Linked DNA regions of Homo sapiens. The protein of the gene in region 2 interacts with the protein of the main gene of each other region in a pairwise test. Each region holds a gene or a part of one and is shown on either strand. Other genes may lie near its edges.

Evidence for each region.
Region 1: the proteins of NAP1L1 (region 2) and DLST interact in binary tests that used the Homo sapiens proteins (3 or more experiments, as listed by UniProt).
Region 3: the proteins of NAP1L1 (region 2) and TTLL10 interact in binary tests that used the Homo sapiens proteins (3 or more experiments, as listed by UniProt).

The regions. Positions count from the first base shown.
Region 1 is NC_000014.9:74,898,838-74,904,281, reverse strand, and holds the end of DLST (dihydrolipoyllysine-residue succinyltransferase component of 2-oxoglutarate dehydrogenase complex, mitochondrial isoform 1 precursor), read right to left. Parts: intron 4,360-5,444; coding exon 4,286-4,359; intron 3,994-4,285; coding exon 3,910-3,993; intron 3,217-3,909; coding exon 3,049-3,216; intron 2,087-3,048; coding exon 1,952-2,086; 3' UTR 539-1,951; downstream 1-538. UniProt on the Homo sapiens protein: Dihydrolipoamide succinyltransferase (E2) component of the 2-oxoglutarate dehydrogenase complex. The 2-oxoglutarate dehydrogenase complex catalyzes the overall conversion of 2-oxoglutarate to succinyl-CoA and CO(2).
Region 2 is NC_000012.12:76,053,686-76,060,801, forward strand, and holds part of NAP1L1 (nucleosome assembly protein 1-like 1), read right to left. Parts: intron 6,595-7,116; coding exon 6,453-6,594; intron 6,194-6,452; coding exon 6,113-6,193; intron 2,477-6,112; coding exon 2,348-2,476; intron 1,406-2,347; coding exon 1,334-1,405; intron 225-1,333; coding exon 85-224; intron 1-84. UniProt on the Homo sapiens protein: Histone chaperone that plays a role in the nuclear import of H2A-H2B and nucleosome assembly.
Region 3 is NC_000001.11:1,190,869-1,197,984, reverse strand, and holds the end of TTLL10 (inactive polyglycylase TTLL10), read right to left. Parts: intron 3,379-7,116; coding exon of another isoform or gene 3,277-3,378; exon of another isoform or gene 2,950-3,276; intron 1,386-2,949; coding exon 1,269-1,385; intron 893-1,268; coding exon 799-892; intron 548-798; coding exon 138-547; 3' UTR 49-137; downstream 1-48. UniProt on the Homo sapiens protein: Inactive polyglycylase.

The DNA.
Region 1 (5,444 bases), on a different chromosome or scaffold from region 2:
AACCCCTTACTGTAACCCAGACATTCCTTTCTATTGATTCCAGGTCTTTAGATAATAACTCTTTCAACCAATTGCCAATCAGAAAATCTTTGATTCTGCCTATGACAACATCCCCAGGTCTTGAGCTGTCCTGCCTCTCCAGACCAAACCACTGTACATCTTACATGTACTGACTGGTATCTTATGTCTCCCTAAAATGTATTAAATGTATAAAACTAAGTTGTAGCCAGACGACCCTGGACACATGTTCTCAGGATCTCCTAAGAGTTGTATCACAGGCCATCAGTCACTCACACTTGGCTCAGAATAAATCTCTTCAAATATTTTTACAGAGGTTGACTCTTTTTGGCAACACTTTCCCGGCTGGCAGTCAGGGTTCTACCTTCTGTCAAATTATGAGTGTTAAGTTCCACATAAGGGATTTCTGATTTCACAAAATAAGCAACAGGACCTTGAGTGGCTTTCAATAATTTCAGTGCAACAGTGCTGGGGACTTGTACCACCTCAGTAGCCAAAAGGAACAGATACAGGAACCCTGTTTGAGAATATCTGCCCTTTAATTTGCATTTAAAATCAGTTTCTTTAAATACTTTAGTTACAAGTTCTGAATAGTGAAGACAGAGTAGTAGATGCTGCAGGCACTCAGTATTGGCTCCCACCCCTTCCCCCCTCCCCCACCCCCAGGCCTCACTTCTTGGCTTAAGATACAAAAGGGCACTCTCTACTGGCCCTGGTGTCAAACGTCAGCAGCCTCAGGCCTGGATGCAGTTGGATACAAAGCCATGAATCCCAGTGGCTCCAAGGAATTCCAATGATTGTGCCCAGATCCACGGGCAACACACCTTAGAAATGACCTCATCCGTTTCACCACTAGGTACTAACACCCTCAGGGTGGTTTCCTACCCCAGTCCACGTCCTCCAGATCTGTGTCCTGCAGAGGAAGAGACAAGGCCCCGCTATAACGCAGGAAGGAACAAAAACTGCCTCCTCAGCCCAGGTGCTTACAGCAACTTAACTGAAAAGCTCAAGGCAATGTGAGTCAGTCTAGAGGAGACCTCCCTTCCCTAGTCTCTACCAGGCTCTGGCCCTTCCTCGGGACCACGCTTGGTCCCACTGCCATGATGTGCTAGAATCTGCTCTAAGAACAAGGTGCTAGAATGAGGCCCAGCAACCAGCAAAGGGGTTGGAAAGGGTTGCTACAGCCCCAGCTGTGTGAGATTGTGCCAAGACGAGTCTTCTTGGTGTCAGCCTATGATGGAGAGCGTGAGGGCAGGCCTGGGCTCTCCTTCTATGATGATTACAATGCATGACCTCAGGGGACCTCTGCCCTCTCCTCCCACTCACACACCCAGATCCCCTGGCCTGTGCTTCCTGGAAGAGGTAGAAGAGGCATCTTGAAGTCAATGACAACGGAGAATGAAGGTGCCATTGAAGAAGCAAAGCAGCACCTCTTTGCCTGTGTTCAATCCCTCCACACAAGTGGAATCAAGGGAGAATGTGCACAGCCAGGACAGAGGCTGCTCTGAGCTTGGGAGGCACAGCATCCTCCTAGAAGTCTCTGCAGAACAAACTTTCAAAAGATAGGAACTTAATCACATGGTCCCCAGGGGTTTCTCTATAGTATACCAGCACTAGGGAAAAGCAAAATCATCTTTGCAGAGAGCTGATGGAAGAAAGGCAGGAATATGAATGAGCATCCATTAAGGCTCTCTCTCTTAAGCCTAAGGAATTAAGATATTCGAGGCTATGAGACAGGTGCAGAGAGGGAGAGCCTGGCAGGAACGCCAAGAAAAGACCTGTGACTGCTGGTTACACAGTGCTCTGCTTCCTTGCTTGAGGCCAACAGCATGTGTCTGCCTGTCACCAGGCTAACCCGGGACCCATGAGGGGACAGGGAGAAGACTGGTTTTCAGTTCCTGCATGATCAACTTGTAGGGTGTGTGGGTTCCTCCTAAAGATCCAGGAGGAGGACTCTGGGATCCTCTACCGCTGCCTTGATTTTGCGGAGGAAAGTCACAGCCTCTCTGCCATCAATCAGCCGGTGATCATAGGTCAGTGCCACGTACATCATGGGCCGCACCTCTACCTACAGAGAGGAAAGGTAAATAGGTTTGTCTCCAGCAAGCCACAGCCAGCCTCGCTGAAGGAGATTTAGCACAGCCCATAAGAAAGTTCCTAATTCCAGAGCCTTTCCTATTGATGTTGCCTCTGCATATTTACAGTATTTCAAAGACCAGGACTTACCCTCAGTGCAAAGCTTCCCCACTCAGAAACAAAGTTTGCCAAGAAAACTGTCTTCTCACAACTGCCTTTTATTTTTTAAAAACATACTCTGCCCTCTAACGCATCTGCTGCCTACAAGGAAAGTTTTCCCTTCAGTTCTGGCTGCCTGTACTTGCTTCTCTCTGGGGTTAGAATTTAAAAAAAAAAAAAAAAATTAAGCCAGGGTCTACAAATTCTGGAATTGTATGTGTAGCTGGGTGTATGGGCATTTTCCAGGAAGATCTACAGACTGTGGTTTCACACAGGAGTCAGTAACCCAAAAGGATTCTAAACACAGGAGTTCCCAGAAAGCTTTTTTGATACCAACGTATCTTCTAAGGGCCAGCTCAAGCCCCTTTTAATACTTAATTCTCTGAACTCCCGGGAAATTTACAAGCTTTATCATACAACTTGGCAGCTCACAGACTGACATGCATAATTGTCATCTGTTTCCCAGGGGCAAGGGACCACGTTTCCAACTATATCCCCCACTCCATAGAAGCAAACAAGCCTCCTCAGCTCAGTGGTTCTCAAACTTGAATATGCATCAGGATCATCTGCACTTCTTCTTTAAGTCTGGGATGGGGTCTAAGAATATGCATTTCTAATAAGGTCCCAGATGATGCTGATCCAGACCACAATTTGATAATCAGTGCCTTAGCTATTAGAAACTAAGAAATGGAACTTAGGCCTGAAATTATAGTTAATGTTTTACAATTAGCATTTAGTTGGATTTCCCTTTCATCGAGACCTAGCCACTAGGACCTTAGAAGTGACGGTTCCTACCTTGCCTCCTATAGCCACTGGCCTGTCAAAGATGCCATGCATCCCCAGGATGGCAGACTGAGGGGGGTTGATAATGGGTGTTCCAAAGAGCGAGCCAAAAACGCCTCCATTGCTAATGGTGAAGGTACCGCCATCCATATCTTCAATGGCAAGTTCATTCTTTCGGGCCTAAAAACAGATTTCATAATTGAAATATCAAGCCAACCCAGTTTCCTTCACCTAAAGTCAGTCCATAATCCCAGCGCTTTGGGAGGCCGAGGCAGGAGGACTGCTTGAGGCCAGGAGTTCAAGGCCAACCTGGGCAACATAGTGAGACCCCCATCTGTATAAAAAACTTAAGAATTAGCCAGGCATGGTGGTGCACACCTGTAGTCCCAGCTACTTGGGAGGCTGAGGCAGGAGAATCGCTTGAGCCCAGGAGTGCAAGGCTGCAGTAAGCTATGACTCTACCACTCTACTCCAGCCTGGGCAACACAGCGAGACCCTGCCTCTAAAAACAAAAAAGCAAAGGAAGTCCAGAAAGCTTGTATCGAGATCGATGGCACAAGCGCTAGCTTCCGTGTGACAGTTGTTCGGCTAAGGTGTCTATGACCAGTGCTCCACCAGAGAAAAGGCACAATTTCATACAGTTGAAGACTTCAAAGATGATCTTTTCTAGCAGGTCTCATCTGATGAGATTTCAGTTACCAGAGCATGGTAAACTCCACCAGATATATAAAATACTTAGCTCTCATGGGCAACTGCTTTTCTCAGGGGCTATGCACTTGACTTTCCATGAGCACTGCTTGCTAGTGAGCCCAGCCTTCTGAAGGCTCTCTTCCCTCGCCTGCTTAGCAGCTTGTATACATCTTTCTACTTTACCTTCTCTCCCAGTTCAGTGATGGTCCGTTCAATATCTGCAAAATTCATAGCTTCCACATTCCTGATGACTGGAACCACCAGACCCTGAAGGGGGTGAAAAGCTGTTTTCAGTTGCAAATTAATAGTACCTTTTATAGTTAACAACTCCCTTGATTCAACCCATGGTATGCCCTCCCTAGAATACCTTCATTACTCAGTGTGATTAACAGAAAGTGTTAAAAGAATGCGGCATGGTTTAAAAGAAAAAAAAGGTTACTTTTACTAACTCCCTTCTAAAAATACAGAATTAAAGAAATGATTTCTCTTGTGTGATCTCCTTCACACAGATAAGGTGAGGGTCTAAGACCAACATTCCCCACCTCCTGCCCCAACATACCCGTGGGGTGGCCACTGCAACACTGATGTCAATATAATCCCTATACACCACCTCTTTGGTTGTGTCGTCAATCACTATGAGAGAGAAAATACATGTTACATACAACTCCCCAGGAAGGCCAAGACTAATGAGGTAATATGTGCATTAACAGAGTAAAAATCTGCAGAGCTTGATACAGTGTGGGCTGACCAACCACCATGAACACCACTGCATTATGCATGGCAGCTGGCATTCCACTTACTCCCATCCCAAGTATAGTATCTCCCAAGTCCCTGACTGAGCCTGGGCATAGGAGCATCCATTTCTTTGGCAGCCCTAAGAAGGGCTCAACACACTGGCTTCCATAGGATAGGTATGCACTAAACTCTCGTTAAGTAGCTCTAGTCAAGCCCTCCTTTAGCAGAGAATGACTAGGGTTAACAAATGTTCCAAAAAAGGGCAAATTAGCAAAGGAAAAGGGATATAGAGATACTACCCATTCTCTGCTTCCAACTCTCAACAAGAGGAAGAGGGGAGATCCAAGAGTAAGCGGGGTGATCTGGCTTTGAAATATGCTACCTCAAGAGATGGCAAACCAGCATCTGAAAATGTACACCTAGCAACTAATGGGAAAATAAAGGCTTGGGAATCATTTCCGCAGAAAGTCCATGTTGTATTGTTAGATAAGACATCCAGAGGAAGCATGTAATGTGAAAAAGAGGCCACGAGAACTTTTGAGAGCCGCCTACATGTGTGGGCAAGCAGAAGGGGGCCACTGAAAAAGATGAGAGCCAGTCAGGGAGGCATGAGAAGAATGGGAAAAAGAAGAGGTATACATTTGGGCAAAACAAAGATGGCCTTCTACCTCCCTAGAGCACCACTCAACAGGAGGGACTAGGGCTTCTACTTCTAGACCTTTAGGGCCCCTGACACTGCTGAGGATGGCAAAAGTAGCACTGACCCCTCTCCAATCTCCCAAGGAACAGAGAAGTGTGTCAACAGGAAAACAAAGTGCTTGTTAGGTCAACACTACAATGACGTAGGTAAGTAAAAAGGAAAGAAAATAAGCACCAGGTCCATGAGAGGCCAAGCCGAAGCTCCCAGTGAGGCCCATCGACCTAAGATCAAAGGTCAGCCAGGAGCCTACACCAACTGTGGAAGTCAGGCCCCAAGGTAACAG
Region 2 (7,116 bases):
TGTAACTGAAAATAACCGAGTATACAAATCAAGTATAACAAAAACAGAAAAAACATTTTGTTAAGGTAGTAAAATTAAACTCACCCTGTACAACCCATAATTTCTGGTCCATCAAAAGAAAAGGGATCAGAATCATCTGGTTCTGACCTCATCCTGTATGTCTTTGTCAGCACTTCATTTGTAAAATATTCATTGGGTTCAAAGTGAAATTCTAAGACAAAACTCTGGGGAGAGGAAGCATAAAAATCAGTTAAATACCTACCTCACATATTTCAGTACTTTAGTAAACACAGCTTCATCTGTTTTTATAAATATTCTAAATGATAATTTTTTTTTCTACTCTGAAATACAATCTTCTTTTTGAGACTGAGTCTTGCATTGTTGCCCAGGCCGGAGTGCAGGGGCACAATTTCAGCTCACTGCAACCTTTGCCTCCCAGATTCAAGTGATTCTGGTGCGCCAGCCTGCCAATTATCTGGGATTATAGGTGTGTGCCACCACACCCAGTTAATTTTTGTATTTTTAGTACAGACAGTGTTTCACCACGTTGGACAGGCTGGTATTGACCTCCGGACCTCAAGTGATCCACCCACCTCGGCCTCCCAAAGTGCTGGGATTACAGGTGTGAGCCACTGCACCCAGCCATGAAATATTTAAGAATGGGACAGACTGTCAGATGAGCCCCAAATTATGTTAAAATCAAAAAAATTACGTTAAAATAATAATGAGGTACAAATTGAACTGAATAGAACTTAGTTTCAATTTACATCTATTAAATAATTAACATGTTTACACAACAGGCTAGGCATTCCTGAATAAAGTGACCATGTTGCCTCCCTTACTCCCCAACTACTGGAGGAATCAGGCTTTTAAATAGTAGACTAAACGTGAACTTGACACAGAAAAAGCCCAACCTTAAGCATCTACAGCCTATATTCTTAGCAGTTTTGCCCTTAGTTGACATTAATTCTGGTGGTTTGGTGGACAGCTTGTTGGCTGATCTTTCCTCATTAGGGAGTGGGCATCCTCTAACATCAGTTTTGTGTAATTCCCAAGCTCATGCCTTTTAATGCAGAAAAAGTACTTATTCATGTTCCCTTGGCATTATTTTTATCCACTTATCCAGGAACAAGGATTGTCTGTGTTTCAAACACAATTTATGATCAGAAGGAGGAAAAGGAATAAATACTGCCTCACAATTAGCAGCATCCAAATATTTATTCACTATAACAAAGAGCACCAACCTTACCCTTGAATGTTATCTTTTTAAAAGCTTCTATTTATCTACCTGTAAGCATGTTACAAAATTATAAATATTTCAAAGTTCTTTTACCATAGGCTGGCCAGCATCTGAGAACTTCACTTTAATATCTTTCAAGTGCTTCAGAATAGGTTCATCGTGTTCCTTCAAATTAAAAAAATAATAAAAATGAATAACATGGCATTCGAGGACTGTGTTCTGTTACTACACAAACACCAGCTGACTGAGACATAATATATTTCAAAGTAGTTTTGTATAGCAATTATGAACCTTAAGACTTACTCTCCAGGTTATGGCTTATACTAAAGCTAATTTATACTGTAGTTCTACTGCCACTGGTAGAGAAAAAGTGTCCAAATAGACAACTGAATTATTATATAGGTTGAAAAATCCAAAATCAAGTCTAAATAAGGCATATCTACTTTTAAAATGTTTCCTGATTGTAATTGCTGCCTTTTCCAGCTGCTTGTCCCCTTCCTCCTGGTCGTTCCTTTTCCACTTTGCTAAAGTAGAATTGTAATAAGCAGTAATTGTGTGAAGATCATTTCTTTTTCTCCATGTAACTTCCAACAATGACAAGACAGGGCAACATGTACTACTACAATGTAGACGGTAGGGGCTCACTCAAGAAATGCTTGAGGCAGTTTCCCAAAGGTGACAACAGTTATGGTTTGCCAGAGAATGTAACCATTGTGAATGAGTTTAACATCTTTATGGTATTCTTTTAAAATGCAAATTTCTCCTGGAAGAGTTAAGGGAATTGCATAATTGCAGCTATAAGATTAACTTTCCCATCATACTTCCATACTAAGTATGTAAAGACAAAAGGCACAGGGTTATAAGAAAACACCAGTCGATAATGAGCCATTATCAATGGGACCATTTCATTATCTCATTTTTTAAAATAAACTAATTTATTTGATTACATTAATCAAAGCTGTAATTTCTCTTCTACAGATATTAGCTATTTCAAAAGTAAGCAATCATTCTAGAAAGATCAACACTGAAGAGAACAGTGATCACAGCCATTTAAACTTCAAAGGTTTACCCTTCAAAGTAAACTGGTACATTTATGAATAAAATTACCTGAACCATATCACTGAGCAAGTCAACATTCTTAAAAACAGTTAACCAAAATTCAGGAATTCCTTTGGGGTCTTCTTTTTCTTCATCTTTTTTCTCATCTTCAATCTTGGCCTTTTCTTTCAATTCCTCCTTGATTAAGTGACAGCAAACATTATTTAATACATAGATTAGACCTCATGATAAAGTAGCAAAGGTATAAAAACCAAAAAGCACAGTCACCAGATATTACCTTCAAAGTTCTAGTCTATCTGTGTAAACACCGCCGTTGCCCATAACAAACCTTAATCCCATCAAAATTACTGCTACCACACCCCTCCAAAGAGAACCACTAAGGTGACCAAGATGTGTAGGAAAAACCATTTTAGTAAAAAAAAAATGTAAAAACTAATTAAAAATGAAGACTTAAGCATAATAAACAAGAAAAGCAACAGAAATACTAATTTGGTCCATTGCCTCACCCCATGGTGTTCTTAATCAAAACATTATATTCTCTTTACCAAACAACATAAAATAGCAATGCTAGAGAGGTGGAACACTTAACACAGCACTGAATGTGTGTCACAGCTCTGCCATTATTCATTGTGGGCAAGTCACTTAGAAGCCTCCATGTCTTCACTTGAAAATGGCAACAATCCTCAGCCTACCATGAAGTTAAAAAAAAAAAAAGAATATAATGAATCTACAAACTAAAAACTGTAAGCCAGGCGCAGTGGCTCACGCTTGTAATCCCAGCACTTTGGGAAGTGAGGTGGGTGGATCATTTAAGGTCAGGAGTTGGAGACCAGCCTGGCCAACATGGCGAAACCCCATCTTTACTAAAAGTACAAAAAATTAGTCAGGCATGGTGGCGCACGCCTGTTATCCAGTTACTGGGAGAAGGAGGCAGAAGAATTGCTTGAACCCAGGAGGTGGAGGTTGCAATAAGCCGAGACTGCACTCCAGCCTGGGCAACAGAGACTCAAAAAAACTATAAAAATAGGCTGGGCACAGTGGCTCAGTGGTTCAAGCCCATAATCCCAACAGTTTGGGAGGCTGAGGTGCGAAGATTGCTTGAAGCCAGGAGTCTAAGACCAGCCTAGGCAAGAAGACTCTGCCTCTACAAAAAAAAGTAGATTAAGCTGGGCATAGTAGCTTCAGATAGTCCTAGCAACTTGGGAGGCTGAGGTGGGAGAATAGCTTGGGCCCAGGAATGAGCTGCAGTGAGCCAAGATCATGCCAGTGTACTCCAGCCTGGGCAACACAGCAAGTCCCTGTCTCTTAAACAAAAAAACTATAAAATGTAAGGAAATAATGACTTTTTGAGTACAGATGGTGGTGCCAGGTTGAATAACAGTTCATCTGCATTATCATTCTTACAAAAAGGAAAAATATTTCCTAGGTATAAAAATACAACTGATGCTCTAGGGAGGCCCTGGCCGGGGAAACGAGTTGCATTTGTCGGCTCAGCTGGCAACAGTGGCGGGAGCAGAGCTGGCGGGGCCTGTGCAACTGCCTGGGTTTGTGAAATGGCTGCTGACGTTTCCGATTCCAATAGGGCTGACTGCAAAGGAGACCCAAGGAACAGAGCCAAGTTAGATGCTGATTACCTACTTTGAGTCCTTTATTGTGGAGTCTGTTCATTACCAATAGAGTACTGTGAATATATGCCTGATGTTGCTAAATGTAGACAATGATTAGAGAAGAATTTTCCAAATGAATATGCAAAACTTACTGTGGAAAATTCACCCAAACAAGAAGCTGGAATCTGTCAAGGTCAAGGAACAGCAGGGGAAGAAGAGGAGAAGAAAAAACAGAAGAGAGGTGGAAGGGGTCAAATAAAACAAAAAAACAAAGACGGTACCACAAAAGGTTACTATAGCCAAAATTCCCAGAGCAAAGAAATATGTGACAAGGGTTGTGGCCTTGTAACTTTTGAAATTGATCTTAAATCACACAAAGATTTTTTGCTCAAAAATTCTCCTGTGGTGCCTCAGTAACAGAGGAGGATGAAATTATCATTCAAGGAGACTTTACAGATGACATAATTGAGGTCATTCAGGAAAAACAGACAGAAGTAGATGATGACAGCATCGAAGATCTTGGAGAAGAAGTGAATTTGAAAATTTGTCTGTAGTTAATGGCCTGAACTGACAGTAGATATGGCCAAAGGGAGAGAGGCCTACATATATATATATATATATATATATATATATGTATTCTACAGTAAAACTGTAGACTGCCTTCGTTCTTGGCATTTTCCCTGTTCTGTACAAGGCTGCTTATTTTTTTATTGCCAAAGTCAAATAAACAGGAGAGACTGTCATGCTCATACATGAACAGAATTTAGTCAAATAAAAAATTTTGGTTATTTGGTACTTTTTTTTTTTTTTTTTGAGACGGAGTCTCACACTGTCGCCTGGGCTGGAGCGCAGTGGTGCGATCTCGGCTCACTGCAACCTCGACTTCCCGAGTTCAAGTGATTCTCCTGCCTGAGCCTCCCGAGTAGGTGGGATTAGAGGCACCCGCCTCCACACCCAGCTAATATTTTGTATTTTTAGTAGAGATGGGATTTCACCATGTTGGCCAGGCTGGTCTCGAACTCCTGACCTAGTGATTGGCCCACCTAGGCCTCCCAAAGTGCTGGGATTACAGGCATGAGCCACTGCGCCTGGCCTTTCTCTTTCTCTCTTTTTATTTTTTGAAAAACCCGGTAGACTTTGCGGTGACCATTTTTGTTGATTATTTTACTGATCTAAAGCTGAGTGATTTTTTAAAAGAATTTGAATTTGGCTTCCTCACCAATAATATGTCTCCTTGCTTCTCTGATGTGATAGTTTTGAGATGGGTGAGAATCTAATATATCTGTGGTTGAATTTGCTTTGCTGTTATCAAGTCCACCCTATGGGCACAATAACATACTGTTGGTAGGAGTTGTTGGAGCTATTCTGGAGATTATTTGGTAAAGTATACTAAAAGCCTTAAAACCACGTATGTGCACTGTTTGAACCAGTAAGCCACTTCTTTGAAATTAGAAGACATTAGAAGAAACAATAAGCCTTGCAATAAAACTTATGGATGAAAGTATTCATCACAATATGATTTATAATAAAAAATTGCAAATGTTATAAGTGAACAATTGGAAAATGGTTAAGGAAGTGATGGTGCACTGTGTGGTATGTTTATGTTTAAAGATGTGGTATGCATATGTTTAAAGAATCATATTTTCTAAGATTATTTGGAAACATGTTTGGTAATGTCAAGTGGGGGCACCCCAGATACATTTTAGACATTTAATCATCATCGTTCTGAGAGGAAGGCCATTCAGAGATGCTAGAGGTTCTTATTCTGGATATAAATTACATGAGTAAAATTCTACTAACCAATTAAAAATAATGTACAACCATGTTCAATATACAGTCCTGGAAATAGCAATTATGTCTTTTCACAAGAGAAAATGACAGTTTTAATGCTCCATCAGATGAATTCGAACTTTAAGTCAGGTGCTGCAAATTGGAAATAAGACTTGTGGTGTTTTAAACTGCTGTGGACACTTAAGAAACTTAGAACCCATGAAACCGCTGCTTATTGCCATGCAAATTACAATCTTGAATGACTGTTTTTTAAAAATAAAGTAATAGAAAAACGTGTAATAAAGACGTAAAATTAAAAAATGAAAAAATACAACTGGTTATATAATATTGTACTCCATCATTAAATGCTAACATTTCTGACAAGTCCTAAGATTTTATCATCTTAAAAACATACCAAAATAAAGTTGGTACTAACCGAAATCTCATCTTCTTCATCTGGTTTCCATTCACATTCTTCTTCCGTAGGTTCATAAATTGCATTAATAATTTCAAATCGCTAAAATGATTTAAAAAAAAAAGGCTGTATAAAAACACTGGCATCCAAGCTAAAACCAGTGGTTTCTCACTAAGAAGTCTTACAAATTTAACAAATGCATACCACAACTTTAACTGCTATTATTGATAGTTCCTCCAAGTGCTGCCTCTAATAACAATTTCAATGAGAGTTCTAAAGATTAACCTCTTCCAAGTCTGCTTATGTTTCTAGAATTCGTCTTCTAGAATGTTAAATTAAACAAAGTAGGAGAAAGCATTACCTTATCAAATAGAGGCTGATAGAGAACAGCATACTTCCTTTCAAGATCGTGAACTTCCTCATAGAATTTGGCTTCTATCTGTGCACATTTAACTTGCAGGTTTTTGAGAGCATTCACTCGTCTTTTAACTACCCTAGGCAGGCTGAAAGGTTAGAAATCAGTTATATAGCATCAGAGTAAAATGGAAGTCACACTTCTTTTGTCATACTGAAACTGAAGCATTGGAGTTAGTGAATGACAGGTTTTTTATCTGAAGCAAAAGGTAGATTCAAAGTAAATAAAAATCAAATAGATATAAATACATTGATCCACTGGCTATATTTCAAAAGTAGAAATGTAACTGGGTAAATTGATAAACAAAATGTAAATCATATTGTCAACCCTAAATCTTTACCCAAGTTAAGTGTTGGACTTGTCATTGCTGAAGTCATGGACAGACCATCTTAATTCTGAGAACAATGATTACTTGGATTTTTCTTTTACATATATCTCACCCATACAAGTTATTAGGAAAAAGGAGGGGAGCATAGACATATCAGGAAAAAGGACAAGATTCCACACACCATTATTTTTTTAGTCTCCATATTTAATTAGGAATTAGTAATTACATTATTAAATACAAGTGTAACATACTATAAAGAGGAGACATGTATTTTTAAAATAA
Region 3 (7,116 bases), on a different chromosome or scaffold from region 2:
ATGGGCTCAGGGGCGCTGAGGTGGCAGGACTCTGCTGCAGAGACTGTGTTTGTAGCAAAGTGGGCTTTATAGGTCCCTGAGGGCAGGCAGCACGGCTGGGGCGCGGGGCGCGGGGCGCTGGGCGCGGGTGGCTGCCCCTAGGGCCTCGCGTTCTCAGGCTCCTCGCGTTCCTCCTTGGCTGTCCCCGGGGAAGGCTCTTGCGCCGGGTGCCTGTTGCCTGTGCCCGACTGCTCCGTGCCCGGGGCCTGGGGCTCCCCATCGTGGGCGCTGTCCAGGTCGGGGCCGGGTGGCCGGGGACGCTGCGGCACCAAGGGAGGTGGCGCAGGCCTGCGGGCGCCCGGCTGGTCTGGGGCATGCGGCATGGGTGGCCCGGAGGACTTGGCCTGGCGGGTGGGCAGGGGCGGCCAGCGGCGGAGGCTGCACGAGCCCCCCAGGTGCGGCCGCGGGTCGGCCTCACCGTTGTGCAGGAGCACGAAGCGGCGCTGGGACAGCAGAGGCAACATCTTCTGGCCGCGCAGGCTCTTCCGGAAGGTCTCGAGCACCAGGTCTGGTGCGGGTGGGGGAGAGAGGGTGAGTGGGGGGCAGAGGCTGGGGCTGGAGGGGGTGGGGAGGGTGTGAGGGGTGGGACCCAGGTGAGCTGAGGTGTGGGGAAGGTTGGGGCAGGGGGCGGCGCTGCCACACAGGCCCTCGGGAGGTGGAAGAGCCCCATCTGTGGGGGTCTGAACTTGGGAAGAGGGCAGGTAGGCATTCAAGACTGGGCAGGTTGTGGGGGTGTGGGGTGGGGGCTTGGAGGCTCACCCAGGGTCTCGATGACCACACCTGGGATGACCTCCTTCAGGACCTCGCAGTTGGTGTGCAGGGCTGGGTTAGAATTCATCTCCAGCAGCCATACCTGCCCCAGACGCCAGTCAGTCCCTCCTCACCCCGAGCCCACTGGGCCAGCAGGAGGCAGAGGCCCTGGTCCTCATTCAGACAGATGGCTCTGGGAGATTGCTTCCTTCCTATAGCCTTGCTCCCCTGTTTGTCCACTGAAGCTCTGAGGGTCTGAAGCTCTGGCCTGAGGGGGCTGCTCTGAGGAGGGGGTGCAGTTCCATCCTAGCTGCACAGGGGGTGAGCCTCATGGATACACCCATCCCCAGGGCTGCATGCAGGCAGGGTGGGGGCTGACTGCAGATTCTGCCTGGGGCCTGCCAGTGTGGTCAGGGTGTACAGATGGCCCCTGCCTCCTTGCATCTGTCTACTGTGCCCCCCGCCGCCCAGGACAGCACCTTGAAGTTGTCATCAATCAGGAAGTCACAGCCAATGAGGTCAAAGTAACCCAGCTTGCAGTCCAGCTTGGGCTTGGCGGCCAGAAAGCAGTGGGCCATGATCTGCTGCATCCGCTTCTGCAGGGAGGCAGGGAGGCATCCTGGCTGCGGCCCGTAGGCCCTGATCACACCCCAGGTCTGAACAGCCACAGCCACATCCCTCACCTGCACTCCCATCTGAACCCGCACCTGTACAGCCACACCTGCCCACACGTTCGTGCACTCAGCCTCACAGGTTCACAGCCAGAAACTCACTCAACAAACTCGTGCAGCTCCTGTCCTGTGTCAGGCACTGGAGATACGAGAGTGAGGAAAACTCACAGGAAATCTCTGCCCTTGAGCAGAAGAGACGGATAGCAAATGGGATACGTAAAATCTCGAATCTTGGTAAGAACTGTGAATTATGTTGTATTTTAACGTGCTCTGGTTTCATCCTCTGCTCCCCAGCTCAATGGTTGCCTCAAAAAACCAACAGCATGCATCCCCAGAACTGGAGATAGCAAAATAGACCTCATTTATAAAAAAAAATTGTCATTATTTGTTTTCTTATGTCTAGTAGTTCCTTGGAAGATCCCATTTGAAAGGACTAACAGAAAGTGTGAGGGCCAGGCACGTGGCTCACACCTGTAGTCCCAGCAGTTTGGGAGGCTGAGGCAGGAGGATTGCTTGAGCTCAGGAGTTTGAGACCAGCCTGGCCAACATGGTGAGACCCCATCTCTACTAGAAATACACAAGTTGGTCGGGCGCGTGGCTCACACCTGTAGTCCCAGCACTTTGGGAGGCTGAGGCAGGAGGATCGCTTGAGCTCAGGAGTCTGAGATCAGCCTGGGCAATATAGGGAGACCTTGTCTCTACCAAAAAATTAGCAAAATTAGCTAAGCGTGGTGGTGTATGCCTGTAGTCCCACCTACTTGGGAGGCTGAGGTGGGAGGACTGCTTGAGCCCAAGAGGCAGAGGCTGTGGTAAGCTGAGATTGTGCCACTGCACTCTAGCCTGGGTGACACAGTGAGACTGTCTAAAAAAAAGAAGTATGGGCCGGGCACAGTGGCTCACGTCTGTAATCCCAGCACTTTGGGAAGCTGAGGTGGGTGGATCACCTGAGGTCAGGAGTTCGAGACAAGCCTTGCCAACATGGTGAAACCCTGCCTCTACTAAAACTAAAAAAAAAAAAAAAAAAGTATGACGATGATGTCTTATCAAATAATAGAGAATACTGGTGAAGAGAGAAAAATTATAAAAGAGAATCAAATAGAAATTCTGAAGTTGAAAAGTAGAACAAAAGTAGAACAAATAAAACATGCACTAGAAGTGCTCAACAGCAGATTTGAATTGTTTGCAGATAGGCCAATTGAGATTATTTAGTCTGAGGAACAGAAAGAAAAAGGAGGCCGGGTGCAGTGGCTTCACACCTGTAATCCCAGCACTTTGGGAGGCCAAGGCAGGGGGATCGCTTGAGGTCAGGAGTTTGAGACCAGCCTGGCCAACATTGTGAAACCTCGTCTCTACTAAATATACAAAAATTAGCCAGATGTGATGGTGCGTGCCTGTAGTCCCAGCTACTTGGGAGGCTGGTAGGCCGGAGGATTGCTTGAGCCCAGAAGGAGGAGGCTGCAGTGAGCTGAGATTGCACCACTGCACTCCATCTTGGGTGACAGAAACCCTGTCTCAAAACAAAAAATGAAAGAGAGAGAGAGAGGGAAGAAAAATAAAGCCTCAGAGACTTGTGGGTGGGACACTGTCAAATGGACCAACATATGCATAATGGGAGTCCCAGAAGGAGAGAAGAGAAAGGAGCAGAAACAATATTTGAAAAAATAATGGCAGAAAACTTCCCAGTTTAATGAAAAACAACCTACACATTCAAGAAGCTCAATGAACTCAAAGTAGGATAAACTCAGAGATCCACCACCTCATCAGCAAACTTCCAAAAGACAGAGAACGTCGAAATCAGCAGGAGAGAAGCCGCTCGTTATGTATGAGGCATCCACAGAAAGATGAACAGCCAGTTTCTCATTAGAGGTCGTGAGGTGGGCAGGCAGTGGGATGGCACAAATTCCCAAAAGTAAAAATACTGTTGACCAAAAATTCTACATCTAGCAAAAGCTGCTTCAAAAATGAAGGGGAGATTAAGACATTCCCAGATAAACAAAGGTAGACCCGCCCTACCGTCCTTCAGGCTGAAATGAAAAGACACTAGACAGTAACTGGAACTCACAGGAGGAAATAAAGAGCCCCAGAAAAGGTCATTGTGTAATTAAATATAAGAGACAGCATACATGTATTTTTTTGTATGTGATTGTTTTGTCCTAAAAGACAACTGTATACAACAATAATTATGAATCCATGTTGATGGACACAAATATACTGAGCTGTAATTTGTGACAACAGCATGAGAGGGGTGGGGCTGTGTAGGAGGAGTGTTTTTGTATACTTTTAGGAGCAGTGTGTTTTTGTATGCTTTTGAAATTAACTTGGTATTAATAAAAAACTGAATTGTTTATTTTAAAACATTTTTTATTTTAGAAACAGGGTCTTGTTCTGTCACCTAGGCTGGGGTAATGTGGTTTGATTGTGGCTCACTGCAGCCTTGACCTCCTGGGCTCAAGTGATCCTCCCATCTCAGCCCCCTAAATAGCTAGGAGGACTACAGGTGCACACTCCCATGCTGAGCTAATTTTGTTTTTTAGAGATGGGGTCTCACTATGTTGCCCAGGCTGCTTTCAAATGCCTGGCCTCATATGATCTTCTTGCCTCAGCCTCCCAAAGCACTGGGATTACAGGCATAAGCCACCACACTCACCCTAATTGTAGTAAATTAAGATACAATATTAATGGTAATCCTCAGGACAACCACTAAAATAACTCAAAAACATATAGTAAAATAAATGACAAGGTAATTAAAATGCTACACTAAGCCAGGCGTGGTGGCTCACGCCTGTAATCCCAGCACCCTGGGAAGCTGAGGCGGGTAGATCACCTGAGGTCAGCAGTTTGAGATCAGCCTGGCCAACATAGTGAAACCCCGTCTCTACTAAAAATACAAAAAATTAGCCGGGTGTGGTGGCATGCGCCTGTAATCCCAGCTACTAGGGAGGCTGAGGCAGGAGAATCGCTTGAATCCGGGAGGCGGGGGCTGCAGTGAGCCGAGATCACGCCACTGCACTCCAGCCTGGGCAACAAGAGCGAAACTCCGTTTCAAAAAAAAAAAGCTACACTAGAAAATATCTCTCTAAAACAATAGGAGGCAGTAATGGAGAAACTGAGGAACAAAAAAAGACAGACATAGAAAACAAATAACAAAATAGCATATGTAAATCCTACCTTATCAGTAATTATTATTATTATTATTTTTTGAGACGGAGTCTCGCTCTGTCACCCAGGCTGGAGTGCAATGGCGCAATCTTGGCTCACTGCAAGCTCCGCCTCCTGGGTTCACGCCATTCTCCTGCCTCAGCCTCCCGAGCAGCTGGGACTACAGTTGCTCACCACCACGCCTGGCTAATGTTTTGTATTTTTAGTAGAGACGGGGTTTCACCGTGTTAGCCAGGATGGTCTCAATCCCTGACCTTGTGATCCACCTGCCTTGGCCTCCCAAAGGGCTGGCATTACAGGCGTGAGCCACCGTGCCCGGCCCTTTATCAGTAATTATATTAAATGTAAGTGAATTAAACTTTCCAATTAATAGACATTGACGGAGTTTCTTAAAAAAACATGATATACCATCTACAAAAGATACTTTAGTTTCAGAGACAAAAATAGGTGGAAAGTAAAGGGATGGAAAAAGATGTACCACACACGGTAACCAAAGTAGAACTGGAGTGTCTACACTCATACCAACTGGAGTGTCTACACTCATACCAACTGGAGTGTCTACACTCATACCAACTGGAGTGTCTACACTGATATGAACAACTGGAGTGTCTACACTCATACCAACTGGAGTGTCTACACTGATATCAACTGGAGTGTCTACACTCATACCAACTGGAGTGTTTACACTGATACGAACTGGAGTGTCTACACTCATACCAACTGGAGTGTCTACACTCATACCAACTGGAGTGTCTACACTGATATCAATTGGAGTGTCTACACTGATATCAACTGGATTGTCTACACTCATACCAACTGGAGTGTCTACACTCATACCAACTGGAGTGTCTACACTGATATCAACTGGAGTGTCTACACTGATACGAACTGGAGTGTCTACACTCATACCAACTGGAGTGTCTACACTCATACCAACTGGAGTGTCTACATTCATATCAACTGGAGTGTCTACACTTATACCAACTGGAGTGTCTACACTCATATCACAGAAAATAGACTTTACACAAAAATTATTACTGCAGATTAAAGGAAAATTTTTATAACGATAAACCAAGAAGATCTAATAATCATAAACATACACACACCCAACAACAGAGCCTCGAAATATACAAAAAACTGACAGATCTGAAGGGAGAAGTAGACAACTGAATATCCCGCTTTCAATACAGAGACAGAAGATTAACGAGTAAATAGAAGACTCGAACAACATTATAAACCAAACAGACCTAACAGACATGTTGGGAGCAGGCCCCCCCCCAAAATCTGGCCATAAACTGGCCCCAAGACTGGCCATAAACAAATCTCTGCAGCACTGTGACATGTTCACAATGGCCCTAACGCCCACGCTGGGAGGTTGTGGGTTGACGGGAATGAGGGCAAGGAACACCTGGCCCGCCCAGGGCGGAAAACCGCTGAAAGGCGTTCTTAAGCCACAAACAATAGCAGGAGCGATCTGTGTCTTAAGGGCGTGTTCCTGATGCAGTTAACTAGCCCAACCTATTCCTTTAATTTGGCCCATCCCTTCGTTTCCCGTAAGGGATACTTTTAGTTAACTGAATATCTATAGAAACAATGCTATGACTGGTTTGCTGTTACTAAATATGTGGGTAAATCTCTGTTCAGGGCTGTCAGCTCTGAAGGTTGTGAGGCCCCTGATTTCCCACTTCACACCTCTGTATTTCTCTGTGTGTGTCTTTAATTCCTCTAGCGCCGCCGGGTTAGGGTCTCCCCGACCGAGCTGGTCTCGGCACAGACATCTACAGAACACTACACCCAAAAACAGGATACACCTCCTTCTCCAGTGCACATGGATATTCTCCAGGATAGACCATATGCTGGGACATAAACAAGTTTCAAGTGTTTTTTGTTTTTGTTTTTTAATGATCCACTTAATGAATAGTAAGTTTGTTGTTTTTTTAAAGATGGGGTTTTGCTGTGTTGCCCAGGCTGGACTCAAACTCCTGGGCTTAAGCAATGTTTCCATCTCAGCCTCCTGAGTAGCTGGAATTACAGGTATGTGCCAACACACCAGCTCCAATAATTTTTCAATAATTTTTAAAGGGTTGAAATTATAAAGTATGTTCTCTGACACAATGGAATGAAATTAGAAGTCAATAACAGAAGGAAAATTGGAAAAATCACAAATATGTGGAAATTAAATAACAGGCCCTTAAGCAACCAATGGGTCAAAGAAAAGCTTACAAAGGAAATTTAAAATACTTTGCAGCTGAGCATCATGGCTCACGCCTATAATCCCAGCACTTTGGCAGGCGGATCACCTGAGGTCAGGAGTTCAAGACCAGCCTGGCCAACATGGTGAAACCCCCATCTCTACTAATAATACAAACAAAATTAGCCAGGCGTGGTGGCAGGTGCCTGTAATCCCAGCTACTCGGGAGGCTGAGGCAGGAGAATCGCTTGAACCCGGGAGGCAGAGGCTGCAGTGAGCTGAGATTGCGCCATTACACTCCAGCCT